4 separate regions of the Homo sapiens genome follow, and regions 1, 3 and 4 are each reported to be linked to region 2. Evidence: microRNA targets listed by miRTarBase, many of them from high-throughput screens and not tested one by one. Region 2 holds a microRNA gene; each other region holds the end of a gene's coding sequence.
The links. The annotated mature microRNA hsa-miR-1911-3p reads CACCAGGCAUUGUGGUCUCC and lies in region 2 at 2,205-2,224, opposite strand. An mRNA with a match to its seed (bases 2 to 7 or 8) in the 3' UTR can be bound and repressed. Matches are read on the target gene's strand: a 7mer-m8 pairs with bases 2 to 8, a 7mer-A1 pairs with bases 2 to 7 and ends in A, and an 8mer does both.

Region 1: the mRNA of NUMA1 is a reported target of hsa-miR-1911-3p. Seed matches in the 3' UTR shown: 7mer-m8 at 447-453.
Region 3: the mRNA of RNF111 is a reported target of hsa-miR-1911-3p. Seed matches in the 3' UTR shown: 7mer-A1 at 2,706-2,712.
Region 4: miRTarBase lists C1QTNF6 as a target of hsa-miR-1911-3p. Seed matches in the 3' UTR shown: 7mer-m8 at 846-852 and 7mer-m8 at 711-717.

What each region holds. Positions count from the first base shown.
Region 1 is chr11:72,000,825-72,003,824 of GRCh38, reverse strand. NUMA1 (nuclear mitotic apparatus protein 1) reads left to right here. Exons shown (of 27, transcript NM_006185.4): 27 at 287-961. The coding sequence ends at 298. IL18BP (interleukin 18 binding protein) reads right to left here. Exons shown (of 6, transcript NM_001039660.2): 4 at 2,501-2,624; 5 at 2,273-2,420; 6 at 1,021-2,041. The coding sequence ends at 1,964. Among named protein-coding and RNA genes, the nearest start is that of IL18BP, 3.4 kb to the right of the region's middle.
Region 2 is chrX:114,762,305-114,765,455 of GRCh38, reverse strand. MIR1911 (microRNA 1911) reads right to left here and starts at 2,272; the gene lies at 2,193-2,272. The region is part of intron 4 of HTR2C (5-hydroxytryptamine receptor 2C); the gene reads right to left. All of the region lies in intron 3 of LOC105373313 (a long non-coding RNA gene), which reads left to right.
Region 3 is chr15:59,094,657-59,097,656 of GRCh38, reverse strand. It overlaps RNF111 (ring finger protein 111), which reads right to left. Exons shown (of 14, transcript NM_017610.8): 14 at 238-2,874. The coding sequence ends at 2,757. Among named protein-coding and RNA genes, the nearest start is that of CCNB2, 9.0 kb to the left of the region's middle.
Region 4 is chr22:37,179,739-37,182,738 of GRCh38, forward strand. It overlaps C1QTNF6 (C1q and TNF related 6), which reads right to left. Exons shown (of 3, transcript NM_031910.4): 3 at 428-2,997. The coding sequence ends at 2,450. IL2RB-AS1 (IL2RB and C1QTNF6 antisense RNA 1) reads left to right here. Exons shown (of 2, transcript NR_199008.1): 2 at 2,691-3,000. Among named protein-coding and RNA genes, the nearest start is that of C1QTNF6, 7.0 kb to the right of the region's middle. RefSeq lists enhancers at 1-748, 749-1,608.

The DNA of each region.
Region 1 (3,000 bases), not on the chromosome of region 2:
CCCCACCAAGTAGCATCCAAGATGGGGCCACGCCAGGCTGCTGGAGGGTGTGGGGTAAGAGGTGTCCCTGTCCTGGTAGCTCCTCTCCAAGGAGAGAAGACAGATGGCCCCATTCTCATGGAGAGCACCCAGAGCTGCTCAGGCACAGCCAGCAACTGATAACCCTGGGGCTCACAAGGGAGGGGATCCAGACAGGGGCGTGGGAGCAGGAAGAGATCTTCCCAGCCAGTGGGTGCAGGCTAGTATCGCAAGTTCTCATCTGGCCATGTGACTGTGTCTCTTTCAGGCAAAGCACTAAAGGGCCAGTACCAGTGAGTGGCCCCACCTGTGTCCCCGATGCTGACCTCACCTGGTCCTCCGCCTACTGTCCCTCTCAGTGCCTTCTCTCAGCTCCCAGGCCAACAGTAGCCAAACCCCTAGAGACAGTGATGCCTGCCCGCACCCTGGCCTGGTCCCTGGTCCTTCACTGGCGCCTTCTCGGAGCTGGCCCAGGGGGCCTGGAGCATGGACAGTGTGGGCGCTCTCCCTACCTTGCCTCCTTTTTTCTTAAAGCAAAGTCACTTCTCCATCACAACCAGATTTGAGGCTGGTTTTGATGGCTGGGTCCTTGGGCCTGGCCAGTCTTCCTCTTAGCCTCTGGATCTAGAAGGGACCATAAGAGGAGTAGGCCCTGGTTCCTGCTGTCCTGGTGGCTGGGCCCAGCAGGGGCCCTCACTCTTGAAGTCCAGGACTGGGTCTGACCTGGTGGGAGCACCTGCCAGAGGATGCTCTTTCCCAGGACGGATGGGCCCTATGTCTCAGGAGTGGGGTTGGGGGACAGCCTTCAGCAGCAGCTCACACCCTACCTTCCCCAGACTTGCACTGGGGTGGGATTTGGAGTGATGGGAAGGTTTTTAAGGGCCGGGGATGGATCTTTTCTAAATGTTATTACTTGTAAATAAAGTCTATTTTTCTCCCGTGAGTACTGAGTTGACTTGATCGGTGTGGGAAAAAGAGGAATATAGGCTCTTTGAAGCCTACCTTGTTCCTGCTGAGTCTTCCATACCACCTCCTTTCTCTCATCCCTTTTCCTGAGGCCACATCTTTCCAGGCTCTTCCCACTCTCCATTAGTGGCCTCTGCTCCCGGGGAGCATTATGGGCTGTTCTCTCTTTTCTTTTTCAAGCGCCTGTGTTCCCCTGAAGCAGGTGTTGTCTTCAGCTTCTGTGTGGCAGTCCCTCTCTCCCATACTCCCTCGTGGGACAGGCAAAGTTCCTGGGAGTGGAACTGAAGCCTAAATGAACAGATGTCAGGATGCCTCCATTGAATAATCCTTTATGAGGACCCATGTGGGGATGACACAGATACAGTGTGGATCCGAAGCAGCTGCTGCCCCCATCCCTTCCCTGGAACAGTCCATTAGAGTGAAGGGGGAAAAAAAAAACATACAGCACGAAGATAGGAAGTCTGCAGAATGCGGCCAGAGCTGAAAGAGGATGACTTCACTGAAGAGGCAGCATTTCAACCAGGCTTGAGCGTTCCCCTGCTGGGGCGGTGAGGAAGACGGGACTAAATGAGCAGAGACATGGGAGTGGGAGCTGTCTGGGAAAAGCAAGAATAGTTGGGAGGCTTCCAGAAAGTCATGTGGGAAATGCAGGTAGGGCCCTGGAGTGCAAGGCTAAGGCATCAACAGTCTTGGTGGTTTCTGAGCAGTAGAGCAGTGTGAGGAGTAGGACGTTAGGAAGGCTAATGGATAGGTGGAGAGAGAATGGCAGGAGGAGGAGGCATTATAAGGAGGCTGTGATTTTCTAGGTAGGTGGGAATGGAGTTTGAATTTGGTGAGAGAAGGGACCCAAAGCAGAGAAGGAGGGGGTGTGTTGCGCATCCACGCAGCCTACAGGCAGTCAGGGACTGTTCACTCCAGGTAGACAGGTAGGACCCAAGCTCTGGTCAAGGTTGTGCTGCTGCTGGCCCTGTGCTGAGTCTTAACCCTGCTGCTGTGGACTGCTGTGGCTGGAGGGCAGGGCTTCTTGGGTGGGGGGCAAGGTTGCCCTCAGCCCAGCCTAGGGAAGTGAAGGCAGACAAGGATCAGGCCAAGGAAAGGAGGGACATCTCATCACTTTGCCCCAGGCTACACCTCCTCTGCCCAAGACCTAAGTTCCTTTTTGTCTGGCTGACCTTGAGGAATGCTGGGCATTAGTTCACAGGCTGCTCTGGCAGAGCCCACCCTTTCCTCCCCACATATGGAAGCAGAGCTCCTCCTGTTCCTGGAGGCCTCTCCTTGGGCTCCTCACCCAGAGCTGGGCCAGGACGACGTGACGCTGGACAACCTGTTCAGGGTCCACGAGCACACAGGAGAAGTTGGTGCTGTGCAGGGCAGGGGTCAGCTGCTCCAGCACCAAGGCCTTGCACAGCTGCGTACCTGTGCTCCCACGTTCCCGGCTGGAGCGGAAGGGAAGGAAAGGTCATGAGAAGGCCGCAGAAGGCCTCCTTCCCACCCACCTGGCTGCTGCGACCCTCACCTGGTGCTCCCCTCCCACAGTCGGCCTGGGAGGTGCTCAATGAAGGAACCATTGCCCAGCCAGTAGAGGATGCTGAAGTTGGGGAAGCGGCTGCAGGCCACACAGGATAAGCTCAGCGTTCCATCTAGGGACACAGGCAGCAGTTAGCTCTTCAGAAGAGCAGGCCCTTCCCCTACCCTGCTCTGCTGTGCCCTCCCTGCCAGCTCCCCCCAGTCCCCATGCATCTGGAACCTAGAGAACTGCTCTGCACACCACCTAGGTGGGAACGTCCGTTACAGAAGTGCAGTTGTCTCCGAGAGGCCCTAGCCCTAAACACGGGGAATGTGAGGAATGGTCCTTGGTTCACGTGATGAATCCTCTTCTGAACCTGTCTCCTCAGGATGACCTTTTCTAGTGCCCAGCCTCGGTGACTTGGGAGCCCAGGTGACAAAGGCAGTGCTGGATGGCTGCTGCTCCTCTGAGATGGCCAGAGGCCAGCAGGCTCTGGGTGGAGGGGCTGG
Region 2 (3,151 bases):
TACCTCAATTTCCCTCATCTGTAAAGTGGGAAAAATACTTATATGTTGGTTGTGTGGATTGAATAAGATAAATGGACAGAGTAAGTGTTCAATTAAAGTTAGCTATTATAGTACTTGTTATAATAGCTTCCTTCACCACCATCATTCAACCCAGTTAAAAGGCTCTTGGCATAGACATACAGGCTTTGAGGGAAAAGTTCATGAAGTAAGGACTGAGAACTTAGCTCTCTAGGAATTGGCACATTAGCAGACAATATAAAAATCACTGAAAGTTTCCAAGGCTGGGCATGGTGGCTCATGATTGTATTCTCAGCATTTTGTTAACCTGAGGTGGGTAGATTGTTGTAGCCCAGGAGTTCACAACTAGCCTGGGTAACACAGTGAAACTCTGTCAAAAGAAAGGAAAGAAAAAAAAAGAAAGAAAGAAAAAAGAAAGAAAGAAAGAGAGAGAGAAGGACGGAAGGGATGAATGGAGGGAAGGAAGAAAGGAAGGAAGAAAGATAGAAGGAAGGAAGGAAGGAAGGAAGGAAAAGAAAGAAAGAAAGAAAGAAAGAAAGAAAGAAAGAAAGAAAGAAAGAAAGAAAGAAAGATTGATTCCATGAAGGAGTGAGATTTAAGAAGAAAAAGGAAAATGAGGAGAATCTTCAAATCACCAGAACTGGACACTACAGAGGGAATTCTAATCTTTCTTGAGAAGACAGAGGATGTCTCCTCTTAAGGAAGAAAACGTAGGAGGTGCGTCCCATTGTTGGCAGTAGAATACTGATAGCATTTAAACTTTTGGTGCATTGTTTTCTTTATGTATTAAATAGGGATAGTACATGTATAATACTTGGAACAATGTCTGGCCCTGAGCAAAAACTCAAGTGTTGGCCGTTGTTATTTAGCTTTGACAGTGCTGCCTATCTGCCTGTAGTGAAATTATTTTTGCAACCAGAACTGGAATGTTAACTACAATTACATTATTTATTTATTTTGTGCATTTATTGGGGAATTAAACCAGTAATTAATATGTAAAAGTTGTACATTTCTTTTACTTTTTTTTTTTTTTTTTTGAGATGGAGTTTCACTCTTGTTGCCCTCAGGCTGGAGTGCAATGGTGCGATCTCGGCTCATCGCAACCTCCACCTCCTGGGTTCAAGAGATTCTCCTGCCTCAGCCTCCTGAGTAGCTGGGATTACAGGCATGCGCCACCACACCCAGCTAGTTTTGTACTTTTAGTAAAGACAGGGTTTCTTCATGTTGGTCAGGCTGGTCTCGAACTCCCAACCTCAGGTGATCTGCCCGCCTCGGCCTCCCAAAGGGTTGGGGTTACAGGCATGAGCCACCGCACCCAGCCAAAGTTGTACATTTCTAAGGAGGATAGAAGAGAGAAACAGCAAAGGATAACCAGAGGTAGAAGACTCTAGATATAAGAACAAAAATCAGGACCTCTGGACTGTATTCTTCCACATATGTCATTATAATTTAAATATACTGATACCATTATTCTTTTTGTATTTAGAATGGAAACTTACCCGGTAAAGAAATTTTTTTCTCTAGGATAAAGATCCCGCAGTGAAGTGATTAAGGATATTGTTAAAGGGAAAAGTGATATTGGGAGAAGACATTTCAAACCCAAAGTAATGATTCACAGGTGAAGATATGTGGGCCTGGGAATTTCCAAGAATATCACCTCATGAACTGATTTGCAAAGAGGAAGGAGGCCTTCATCTATCCATTAAAAAGAAAAAGACCAGATATAGGAGTAGATGCTAGGTATATACAAGTACACAAGGCTGACAAGTTACCTGCTAAGCTTTTCAGAGGGATGTTTTTTGGGTGAATGCCTGAGGACAGGAATTAAGGCATCAGTGTATAGACTCAAGATCAGCCCTGTGGAATATGTAAGCCCTGTGGATGATAACCATAAGTAACAAAGAAAGATAAAACAGAGATAGCTGTTTTACAGAGGGACTTTGTGAAGGGGACAGGGACAAGTATTGCTTTTTCAATGTTTAGATAACAAAATGTGCCACAGTTATAAAGGGGCATTTTCCTAATTTATGCAAGGAACACAGCTAAGTACAATGAATACTGACGCAAATGCAGCACACCTGGTATCTTGAGGGTTTGTAGATTTGGCAGCCCCGGGTGACAGCACTCTGGAGAAGTAACCAGCATTCTCATGGAAGGCACCGGTGGCGAAATGGCAAAGCGTCAGCGGAGACCACAATGCCTGGTGGGAGACTGTGGATGCCCAACAGACATGGCGGTACTCAGCAGATGCCGAGCAAATGATGATGGATACCCAGTGGCAGATGATGGATGCCCAGTGGGAGATGATGAATGCCAAATGGGAGATGATGGATGCCCAGTGGTAGATGATGAATGCCCAGCAGATACTATGAATGATGACGGGTGATGGTGGATACATGTGTGCTCCATGAAAGCCCAGAATAATTGCAGCAGTGCATGATGAAAATTGATTTGCTCATGATCACACGAGAGAACCACTGGTGACTTCTAGAAGTACTTAGGGGAAAATGAGTGTACTTTTTCTAGAGGGCTAGAGGACCTTTGTTAGCACAGGGGTGAATGTGGAGTATCAACATGAAAGCTATTTCTTCTGTGCTCACAGCTGTGATGCCCATCACAAATGTAAACACTTTTAGGGACCAGGTAGGTAATATCAGTGGGTAGGACAGCTGGGTATAAGAAGATGGGGAGTGGTAGAAAAGATAGCAAAGTTGGAACTCACTCTTAAAATGTATTCAAATGATAAAGTTTAAAAATTGTTGGCTAGGCCAAAACAAAATTTATCTGCAGGCAAAATTCAGCCAAAGAGCCACTATAACAATATGTTCCAATACCCTAGGGCTTAATATGCCATCTATCTAGGGATATGGTACCACCTTTATACACACAAGAAAATTGTTTCACTTTGAGAATGACCTCTAGTTATACAAATTTTGGAGGTATTAATATATATGAGAAGATTGTCTTCTGCTATTCATTAACCAATTCGAAGAAATCAGGGAGATTTTATTTATTGCATGTTTATTTTCATAAACTGTATATGTTTTGAGAACATTTAGGACAACTTGGACTCCAGTGAGTAACTTTTGATGGAATCCTTGAAAATCCCCAGGGATGACAGTGGAAAATATGA
Region 3 (3,000 bases), not on the chromosome of region 2:
CTGCCCACCTCAGCCTCCCAAAGTGCTGGGATTACAGGCGTGAACAAGTAACAGTTTTTAAAACAAAAGTAGTTTTCTCTAAGTCAACTGTTATGGTTCAAATGCTGAAGTGTGCTAGCAGCTAAAATAAAGTCACCAGAGTAAGAAAAACGTTTCAAATGATCAGTTTATCACAACTGTTATGGTTCAAATGCTGAAGTGTGCTAGCAGCTAAAAGAAAGTCACCAGAGTAAGAAAAACGTTTCAAACGATCAGTTTATCACAACTGTTATGGTTCAAATGCTGAAGTGTGCTAGCAGCTAAAAGAAAGTCACCAGAGTAAGAAAAATGTTTCAAATTATCAGTTTATCACTTGCATGTTAACAACAATAAAAATAAGGACTTGCTAACAAAAGAATTTTAGTTTTTATGTATTTGGACAGCTACCACTGAAATGTTCATTTTGACATATAAGATGCAGCAGGATATGGAAGACACCAAAACAAAGCACAAAAAGTCAAAATGTTCAAAGTCATTTTCTTCCTTACTTTCTTCATTACTTATCACATTTTTCGATAACTAATGGCAGTAGCTTAATAAGCTCCTATATTAACAATTCAGGTTTATGTCACAAATACTTTTATTAAATAAATTTCAAAGTAACAAAGCTTTGCCTACATTAAAAAAATCAGTAGCAATTATAAAACAAGTCAACAGGTAGTCGTGCATCTAAATCTGATGTAGTATTCAAAAATAGAGAAATCCACCTGTGCTTTACTTGTATCTGGGGGAACGTCAAGAGGACTCCATGACATACAGTTCTCCCCATCTTACACTTCTTCAGTCCCTTGGCACAGACCCGGGGTATTCCAGTGGCAAAGTAGTACATCCATTACAGGCTACTTACTTAAAGGAAGACAGGCTACTTGCTCTTTTCCCCAGTAAGATGGCAGACATAGGTCACTGACTCCTTCACTCTCCCCTGACCTTCTATAACCTCGGTTTAATCATAAGGTATGCTCTTTAAATCCATCGTCCATCTGCACACATACTATGTTGAAGCCTGTTAACATTGACAACTACTACAGTGTAACATTTACTAATATGAAGAAAAGGGCAAGTAGTCATAACTGAATGAATATAAATGTCAAATTATGCAAATGTCAATTTGAGTGAGATCACTATTGTTGAATTCCAAGATGTTTAATGTAAACTGTTTTTATAAAAACTAATTATGAAACACAAAGACAATAGAAATATAAGTTATTTATTAATCAATCCACTTACAAAGCAGGTGGCTTAATGCAAGCTTATTGACATCTTCACATATGATCCATGGGAACATGTCCTCCACATACAGACAGTGATATTACTGACTGGATGCATTTGCAATCTGGGGCATATTAAGCATATTTAAACAAATAAAATTAGGCTATCCTGTATATGAAAGTATCTTGATAATAATATGCATCCTGAAGTAGATTAAAACTTCCTCCAAAGGAGAAATGTTAGTATGTTAACTTAACTTTATATTCTATATTATGCAGTAAATCTTAACTATAGAAATTAAAAATTTTAAATCAGTGATCGACTCTTGGTAATGTATGAAGTGGGAGTATATAACCATAGCAACAGTAGGTTGACAGTATAATTTGTGCCTCACAGTATCTGCAGATTTACTGTTTTCAAGTTTAGAGAGAAATAAAACAAGAGACATGTAGATTCAGCTGACTTTATTTACCTTTAAACTAATAAAAATCCCTTAAAAGTGATCCTGGGACCTTTATAAGTTCTATGAATGCACAGATACCTGCCAGTGACTTAAATTCCAAATCTTGACTTAATGTGTCTACAAAATCAATGTAAGCAGATATCTTAACTTTTCGTGCTTAGCAGAAGACAACAAATTCTACATGTCTTTTTCAATTTCCCTAAAATTTTGTTAAATCTGCAAGTATGTACAATCTAGCTAATTGAAATTAATATTTAGTGTTCATCAGAGCTGTTTCACAGCAGCAAAAACTGAATCAGGGAAATAAAATTCTAAATGATGTAGGAAAAAGATAAATGCAATCAGAACAGCAGTCTAAATGTATGATATCAATATTCAACTCTTATCTGCACTGTGTTGAAAGGAAAAGGATACACCAAGAAAATTTATACTGATCACTCTGGTGATGTGACTACCACCTGCATCTGATTTATATGGGTTGTATTCTGTTCCCAGTATTAAGGATGGTATTTAACTCAGAACTCCATATAGTAAATATACAGCAGCCATTTTGTCCTAATTAAGGAATGTCTTAATACACAATATTATCATTTTCTAGAGGATCTTTATACATTAAACTAAAGTACATGATTGATTAAATTAAAGGTTAGTAATGGATAAAAAATTCATAATTATCAAGGCTTGGTACTATGTAAAAAACAAAAAGACCACAAAATTCTACTTACTAAAGCAGCTAACCTTGCCTGCAAGTTTAGGGTCACAAGCCCATAATATGTGCAAAGAAATGCAATACAAGGAACCATGCAAAAATACAGTAAAATGATACAGAAAAATGTCAAATCTAGAAAAAAAAGCTTTTATAAATACATCAAAATCAACTGTATACATAAACTGTAGGTCTAGCATTAGTTGTACCATATAGCAGAGCCAGCACTCTAAGTTCAATGCTTCCAAATCTGCGCAGGTAAGTCATGCCATCTTTGGTTGACTGCAGTACCAGGAAGGATGGGAATGAGAGGGAGGGCAAGAGTTCTGAAACATGGTGTCAACTTTCACTTGGCAGCTGGGCCTCAATGTCCACTCTGCATATGGGGCACTTCTTATTGGTAATCAACCATTGGTCAACACACACTTGGTGGAAAAGGTGCATACATGGAAGACGTCTATTATTGGCAAGAAAACAAAAAGCAAAAATTAATTTTATGATAATTGTACGTAGTTAACAAATTATATATGTAATAATTCAATAATGTTTTGAAGGTACTAAGCATCTTCCTCTTCTATAAAAA
Region 4 (3,000 bases), not on the chromosome of region 2:
AACAGTTCTCTCATCATAATTAAACGCAAAACATGCGACAGGGTCCCCGGGGCGGGAGGTGGGGGGGCTTGCGTGTGCCTCACTGGAGCATAAACGGCACAGGTGCTCAGCTCTGCGCCACACAGTTGGCGCTCAGCAGATGCTGAGCATGAACGCGGCACTCATCAAGCAACCTGGCATCTGATCCTTATGTCCACCGCATGAGGTAGATTACCATTGTCCCCATTTTACAGACAGGAAACCGAGGCGCAGAGATATGGGGACTTGCCCGAGGTCACAACCAAAGAGTGACACGGCTGACTCTATGCTGGTGCCACTAGCTCCAAGGCGCGCCAGCTGCGTGAGTGACCTGGGGGCTCGCTTCTTTGTGGGCAGGGAGCACGCAGAGTGGGCAGAGGGAGCCGAGCAGAAAGAACCAGTCTGAATCGCCAAGAGGAGACAGCATTCTTTAATCATGCTGGACGGCAGGGCGTGGCGGGGTCAGGCAGGGGCAGGATCAGGCAGGGTGGTTTATAGCACAGGTCTTCCTGGCACTTGGTCAGACCCTGTTTCCGTCATCTGGCCATGGAGCCACGGCTCCTCGGCTGTGAGCACCAGAGATCACCCCCCGGGGCACCTCAGCCCCAGAGTCTGCATGAGCACCAATGGGCGGAGGCCGCCTCCCTCTGGGGAGAAGGGCAGGCCACCTGGGTTTGGAAGGCTAGGGGAACACCAGGCCACCCCACCCTGGAAGAAGAAACGGAAGGCCTGAGGTCCCTCCTTTGCTCTAGCTCCCCAGACCTGCTGAGGGCTCTAAAGCCTGGGGCTTCCGTGGCCCTTCTCCTGCAGGTGTTTGTAAAGGCAGCACCAGGCCGGAGGAGGGCTCTGAGACGAGGAGCTGCCCACCCGGGCCTTAGCACCTTGATAAAGCCTGGAGAGTCGGGGCACTGGGCCGGTGAGAGGGGCATGAGGGGCAGAGAGCACCTGGGGACAGACATCAGTGTCTGAGGGCAGCTGGAGGCCCTGGGGAAACGGAAGTTCAGATGACTTTGGTGGAAGGGACTGAGCAAGGCCCTGGCAGAGCCCTGGGAGGAGGCAGGAAGGGGATCCCAGTGAGGAGGGCAGGTCTTCTCGCAGGATGCCGTATCAGCTGTGGGGAGAGCTATGGGTGTGGGTTCCATTCTTCGGGGGCCACTTCACCCCCCAAATGCCCCCACACTCCTGGGTCCTCTCCTCACAGAACCCTTGACCTGGCCAAGGCCCCCTGGGGTTTGCTGTAACGATGAGCACTGGGCAGGTGGATGAGGAACGGGAAGGAGATACCTGCCCCTGCCACCGGGACCCCGTCCCACCAGCCTTGGGGAGCAGTGGGTAATGGAGGACCAGCAGCACCTGAACACCCAGAACACAGGCCCCCATGAGCTCTGGGTCTGCTTTAAAACCTATGTACACATCTCTCCCCGCCTGGGCTGGACTGGCCAGTCACTGAGGGCAGGGGCAGGGCCTGTGTCTGACCCCCTCACCCTTCCCGGGACCCAGCACAGAGTGAGTGCTCAGTGTTTAATGAATGAATAAATGAACGGTGGCTGCAGTGGTGCAGGCCTGAGCAAGAGAAGAGGGGGAAGGGGTAAAGAGAACATAGCACGGGGAGCCCTGGAGGGATGAGAGAATTTAAGAATGTTGGAATTGGCCAGGCACGGTGGCTCACACCTGTAATCCCAGCATTTTGAGAGGCCGAGGCGGGTGGGTCACCTGAAGTCAGGAGTTCAAGACCAGCCTGGCCAATATGGTGAAACCCCATCTCTACTAAAAATACAAAAATTAGCCAGGCATGGTAGCAGGCGCCTGTAATCCCAGCCACTAGGGAGGCTGAGGCAGAAGAATCGCTTGAACCCGGGAGGCAGAGGTTGCAGTGAACTGAGATTGCACCACTGCACTCTAGCCTGGGCAACAGAGCAAGACTCTGTCTCAAGAAAAAAAAATGTTGGGAGAATTCTAGAATGTGGGGAGGATTCCAGAATGTTCAGAAAGTACTAGAATATTGAGAAAGTCCTAGAACCTGGTTGCTCCAGTGTGGTTCATAGACTGACCCCATCAGCATCACCCAGGAACATATGAGAAACACAGAATCCTGGACCCACTCAGACCTGCTGAGTCAGAATCTGCATTTAACACGAACCCCGGGTGATTCGCATGCATTTCCAAGTTTGAGAAGTGCTGGGCTACGAGGCTGGGAAAGTTCTAGAATATTTAGGTTAGCAAGCTTCTTAAAATAGGTCCAAGAGAGAAGAGAGGAGCAGAAATAGGCTGGGAGGGATGATGGCAGCCAAGATAGAAGCAGGGTCTCCCCAGAATGCCAGGTCCCCGGGGACCTCCCTGGCCTTCCTGCTTCACAGCAGTGCAAACTGAGCCCTGCAGGGGACGGGACCAGCACCTGAGCTCTCCAGCCGGGAGGGTGGCCCAGAGGCCCTCAGTCGTCCTCGGCCTTGATGAGGTGGCCGCTGAAGGTGATGTAGGTGTCGAAGTCGTTGCTGTAGATGGCGTTCTCGCGCTGGCGCTTGAAGAGCCGCACCCAGACGCGGTCCCCGTAGGCCAGGTCCAGCATCACACTCTGGCTCTGCATGATGCTGCGCTCGCTGGGCTGCGCGTACAGGATGACAGCCTCTTTCTGGTTATGCATAATGTGCACGTACGTCTCCTTGTAATTCCAGCTGTGCACATTGAGGCTGAAGAAGTAGATGCCACGCAGGGGAGCAGCAAACTGGCCGGTCGCCATGTCAAAGCACCCATCAAGGTTCACAAAGACCCTTTCGAAGAGCAGCGTCTGGAAGTCCTCGCCGCTGTGCAGGGCCGTCTTGCGGCCCACTGAGAAGGCGAAGAAGCGCTTCTGGCACGGGGCGCCGGGGCTGCCCATCTCCCCCTTGTCACCCTTGCTGCCCTGAGGGCCAGGCTCCCCTTGGGGACCCTCCCTGCCCATGTACCCTGGCAGGCCCATTGGGCCTGGGTCCCCTTTGTCACCTG